Linked DNA regions of Homo sapiens: region 2 is linked to region 1. The links come from fine-mapping of genetic effects on gene expression. A gene starts in region 1. The other region holds a variant in brackets. All regions are shown on one strand. Distances are from middle to middle.

Region 1 (2,793 bases):
CAACTTTTAGGTTGAGGAGTCTTATCCCCATCCAGATCATCTGACTCCCAAATCCAGAGGTTTGCACCTGCACCCCAGCGGCCTCGCGAAATAAATGAGAATGTCTTGGAATTTTTGCCAATACTTTCTCTTCCAAAGAACTCAAACTGATTTCCACGTAATTCTCACTGATTTGTGAAATGAACCTTCCTGGACTGTAAATTTCCCCGCAAAGAGAGGGCCAGGGCCCCGGGTCGTTTTATACTGGCCGGGGCACCCAGCAGATGGCGCTATGTTAGTGGCCACCAGCTGGCTGCCCCGTCCCCCGAGCTCACCGCCTCCGCCGAAAGCTTCCCGGCCCTCCCTCGCTCACTTCTCTCTCCCCCTCCCAACCGAGCCCGGGCCCACGTGACCTCAAGGCGGCCAATGGGTGAGCAGAGAGGGCGAGCTGGTCCCTGTGGCCGCCATTAAAGCGAAGGGAAAACCCGTGAATTCGGATTAAAGGGGGAAAAACACCGCCCGCTGGGCCCACAAAATGGGGGAGACTACGGCGTCCAGCCGGTGAGGCCACAGGAGGGCAAACTTTAGGCCGGCTTGGCCCAGGAACGACACGAAGACAGAGCCAGAGAATGGTCTGAGCCCGCAGACGCCGCCACCACCTCCGCCGCTGAGGAGACTCTGGGCTTAAGGACATCGCCGCTGCCGCGCCGGGGGCCTGGGCTTCTCTCCCGGTTCTCGCCCTTCCCGCTCCTGTGCGGGCGCCTCTCCGCCCGGGAGAACCGTCCTGGGCTTGGGCTCTGCCGTCTCGGACTTGATTTTGATTATTTATTGTGTAATTTATTATTTTTCTTGTGGTAGGGGCACACATCCCCTCCGTCCCCCAGAGAGGGACGAGCGTCTGCGGGATCCGCAGTCCGGCCCGCCAGGCGAGCGCGGCGCGGCCCTCCCGCCTCCGGCCCTCGGCCCCGGGCGGCTGGGTGCCGGCCGGGCGGCGGGGGCTGCTCGCGGCGGCGGCGGCGGCGGCGGCGGCGGGGGGGTGGGTGGGGAGGGCGGGCGCCCGGCGGCCTCCTCTTCCACCGCCCCCCCAACCACTACCCCCCCCCCGGCCCTCCCCGGTGTCTGTGTTTCTCTCTCTGGTCGGAGGCGGCGGTAATGGCGGATGGTGGGTTGTGGCGCCGGCGGCGGCTGCTGTGAGGGACGATGAGTGCCTCCTTCGTGCCGAACGGGGCCAGCCTGGAAGATTGTCACTGTAACCTCTTCTGCCTGGTGAGTGCCGGGGCCGGCGGGCGCCGAGGGAGGGGGGCCGCGAGGTGCGCCCTTGGGCCGTGGGGGAGGGGGCCGGGTCTGGTCCAGATGCCCGAGTTCCCGGGCGAGGCCCAGCCGGAGCCGGCGCCCTGCGAAGCTCCGCGGCCAGCCCCGGGAGGCGGCGTTCGCTCTCCTACGGTCCCGGGCTCTGTTTAGGGGAGTGTTGGCATTTTTTCTCGTCTTGTTTCGGACTCTCCTTCTCACCGTAGTCTCGTCCTCAACTTGAGCTCCTTATCTGGCAGGACAGTAACCTTTCCCTCTTGTCTTGCTTAACTGTTGCTTTTCTCCTTATTGGCCCTGTATCCCTGCTTCACACTTTACATTATTGCCCCTGCTCCCCACCGCCTTTATGTCTTACCCTTTTAATTTGGTTTCCCCATGTAAACAGGACCCCAGAACTTAAGCCCTAGAAACCTGTCTTGGTTTTACATTTTTTTTGTATGAGTCAAACTAACGCCAGGTTAGTTTCTTTCTTGGGTGACTTAAGATCTCTCTGTAAAAGCCAGTAGGTGCCATTTCATATGTTTTCTTTTTAAACTTTGAAAACAGTTTGCCATTTTTGACAATTTCTAGCCATCTTGCTTTTATTAGAACATGATGTTTTTGTGAGAGTGAAGGGGGCTAGTGGACGAGGTGCTGTGGTTTTGCACTGTTTCTATATTTATTGTGTTTTGGTTGCTTTTTCAGAATGTTTTGAGCAGGCTGCTCCCTTGTTTGATTGAAATGGAAAGTCGAGAGAAGCGGGATGTAGGGATGATCATTGTGTAGGTTAGCCCAGGTCTGGTAACATCCAACAGTTAAGGCTTTCAGAAGTACCAACTGTTGCAAATAACTTGTCCTGTATGGGACAGTAGCTGAGCTTCATCAATGACTTTAAGTTTGGGTGACTTTACTTTTTCATTTTCTCCTTTGTGCTATGAGAAATATTAAGAGTATATGATAGGTAAGTGAGTTAAGTGGGAGGAGCACAACTAGTTGGCAAGTGTAAACTGCCAGTCATGTATCAGCAGTTTCATTTTTGGCACCTTATGCTTTGCTCCTTTAAGTTAGATTAAATTACTGAATTCCTCTTGTCGAATTTCTTAACGCCCATGCTAAATTGAGATCTTTAATACTCTATCCTCGTCTACAGTATGTTTTTCTTTTCAATGTCCATTAATCAGCATCTCTTCACATGTAATAAGACATACACCAGGTTTTATATTTCTATCTTATCCAACTCAGTCTATTTTTGGTACTTTTAGGATCAGTTCTTTGAAGATAGACTAGCACAAATCTGACAGTTCTTTGTGAGTAGCTATTTGACTTTTCCGACAGGGGTGTGTGTGAAGAATTAACATAGATTTTTTCAGAACTTGTTCAGATGTCTTTTCATTAGAGACGTTACTTCTGTAAATGTGGAATAAAAACCCATGATAGGGTCTTTAATAATTGATTTTCAGTTAAAAGTTTGACACCAGTGAACAAATGTGACCAGTTAGGACAGAGAAAAATGTACTCTGTTTGCAT
Region 2 (2,793 bases), 240 kb after region 1:
CAGGCTAAAGAAGTTTCCTTCTATCGCTAGTTGGCTGAACATTTTTATAATGAGTGGATGTTGGATTTTATATTTAAAGTTTTACTGCATTCCTTGGTAGGATTATATGTTTTTTCTCCTATATCCTGTTGATATGGTAAATTACATTGATTAGTTTTTGAATGTTGGCCTGACTGTAAATTAGTGGAATAAAACCCACTTGATCATGGTATAGGACCCATTTTATATAATTGTTAGATTTGACTTGCTAAATTTTGTTAAGGATTCTTTCCATCTATGTTCATAAGAATATTGGTCTATAGTTTTCTGTAATGTCTTTATCTGGCTTTGATATCAAGGTAATGTTGGCTTTATAAAATGAGTTGGGAAGTATTGATATTACTTCTTCCTTAAATTTTTGATAGAATTCACCAGGGAAGCCATCTTGCCCTTATGTGTTATTTTTGGGAAGACTTTTACTTTTAAATTTAATTTTAAAAATGAGTATAGGAGTATTCACATTTTCTGTTTCTGAGTCAGTTTTAGTAATTAGTATCTTTCAATAAATTTGTCCATTCAAGTTTTTGAATTTATTGGCATAATGTTCAAAATATTCTCTTATTTCTTTAAGTGTCTGTAGGATTTGTAGTGATATGCCCTCTTTCATTTCTGATATTCATAATTTGTGAATTTGTGTCTATCTCCTTTTTTTTGCTTAATCTAGAATTCATTTTGCTCAATCTGTAATAGGTAGTAGAGGTTTATCCATTTTATTGATCTTTTAAAAAGTTTTTGTTGACTTTCTGTTTTTCCATTTTCTATTTTGTTGGTTTCTGCTTTTTTTTTTTTTAATTACCATTGTTTTACTTTCTTTGGATGTAATTTTCTCTTCTGCTAGCTTCATAAGATTGAAACTTGGCCAGGCATGGTGGCTTACCCCTGTAATCCCAGCACTTTGGGAGGCTGAGGCGAGCGTATCACCTGAGGCCAGGAGTTTGAGACCAGGCTGGCCAACGTGGCAAAACCCTGTCTCTATTATAAATACAAACAATTAGCCAGGCATGGTGGTGGGCGCCTGTAATCCCAGCTACTCGGGAGGCTGAGGCAGGAGAATTGCTTGAACCCAGGAGGCGGAGCCTGCAGTGAGCTGAGAT[C/T]GTGCCATTGCACTCAAGCCTGGGCAACAAGAGCGAAACTCCGTCTCAAAAAAAAAGAAAAAAAAAAAGATTGAAACTTAAATAGTTGATAACTGATTTTGGACCTTTTTTTTTCCTAAATAAAACACCAATGAAAGCTATACATTTCCCTCTAAGCACTTCTTTATCTGTGTCCCACAAATTTTGATGTTGTTACATTTTTTTCTGATTTCCCTTGTGATTTCTTCTCTGACCCAAGATTTATTTAGAAGTCTAAATAAACACTAACTAGGTGTTTTTTCCTAGATATTTTTCTCTTACTGAGTTCTAATTTATTTTTGTGTGGTTAGAGAATAGATTCTATATGATTTCAGTTCTTTTAAATTTGACGATCTGTCTTGGCAAATGCTCTGTGAGTTTTTGGAAAGTATGGGTATTCATTTATAAAAATCAGTTAGGTCAAGTTTGTTGATTATCTTGCTAAGATCTTCTGTATCCTTGCTGGTTTTTTTTGGTCTACTTATAAATTAATTAGAGAATACTGTAAGGGTCCTATAATTGTGGATTTGCCTTTTCTTTCAATTCTACCAGTTTTTGCTTCATGGGTTTTCATGGTCTGTTATTAGCTGTATACACATTTAAGATTATTATGTCTTCTTGATGTATTAACCCATCTGTCATTATGAAATGTCTTTGTTCTGAGATCTATTTTGGCTAACATTGATATAGCCACTCCAGCTTTCTTAGGATTAATGTTTCCATAGTATATATTTTTCATCCTTTTATTTTTAACCTATTTGTGTCTTTAGATTTAAGATAAGTTTCTTATAAATAATTGTCTTCTTTATTTATCCAATCTGACAACCTCTTCTTTTTAATTGGAACACTTATACTATTTACATTCAGTGTAATTATCACTGTGGTTACTATTTGTTTTCTGTTTGTTCCAACTTTTCTTTATTCCCCTTTTCTGTCTTCTTTGAATTAATTAAACATGTTTTAGGATTCTACTTTACCTTCACCACTGTCTTCTTAAGTATACCTCTTAGTTTTATTTTTGTGAGTTGCTTCATACTTTGCATCTTAAACTTATCACAGTGTACCTTCAAATAATATTTCAACTCACAAATAATGTGTAAGAACCTTCTGCCAATATACTTCCGTGTCTACTCTCCCATGTTTTGTGCCATTTTTGTCAAATATTTTACTTCTACATTTGTCATAGCCCTCACAGTGTTTTGTTATTTTTAGTTTAAATCATCAGCTATGTACAAATTTACAAATGAGGAAAATAATTTCTTTCTTAACCCTCCAGTTTTTCACTTCTGGTGCCCTTCATTTTGTAGGTCCAAGTTTCTGTATTGTGTAACTTTTCTATTAGCTTAAAGAGCTTTATTTAACATTTGCATTGCAAATATTTTTTCAGCTTTTTTTCTTACCTTCATGTTTTTAATGGTAAAATATATATAACATAAAATTTACCATTTATCTGTTTTTAAGTGTAAATTCAGTGGTATTATGCATATTTATATACTATTATCTAGTGCCAGAACCTTTTCATCTTTCCAAACTGAAACACCATACCCATGAAACAATATCTCTGTATTTCCCTATTGTCCAGCCCCAGGAAAAATGCCGTTCTCCTTTCCGTCTCTATGAATTTGACTACTCTAGATACCTC

The links. PIP is the estimated chance that this variant, and not a neighbour inherited with it, causes the effect.
Region 2: its variant is fine-mapped to the expression of MED13 in whole blood (INTERVAL, PIP 0.95).

The regions. Positions count from the first base shown.
Region 1 is chr17:62,063,592-62,066,384 of GRCh38, reverse strand. MED13 (mediator complex subunit 13) reads left to right here and starts at 1,107. Exons shown (of 30, transcript NM_005121.3): 1 at 1,107-1,245. The coding sequence starts at 1,180. RefSeq lists silencers at 317-396, 1,187-1,466 and enhancers at 447-706, 1,617-1,716.
Region 2 is chr17:61,828,337-61,831,129 of GRCh38, reverse strand. The region is part of intron 6 of BRIP1 (BRCA1 interacting DNA helicase 1); the gene reads left to right. Among named protein-coding and RNA genes, the nearest start is that of BRIP1, 34 kb to the left of the region's middle. The variant C/T (reference allele first, on the strand shown) is at 1,134.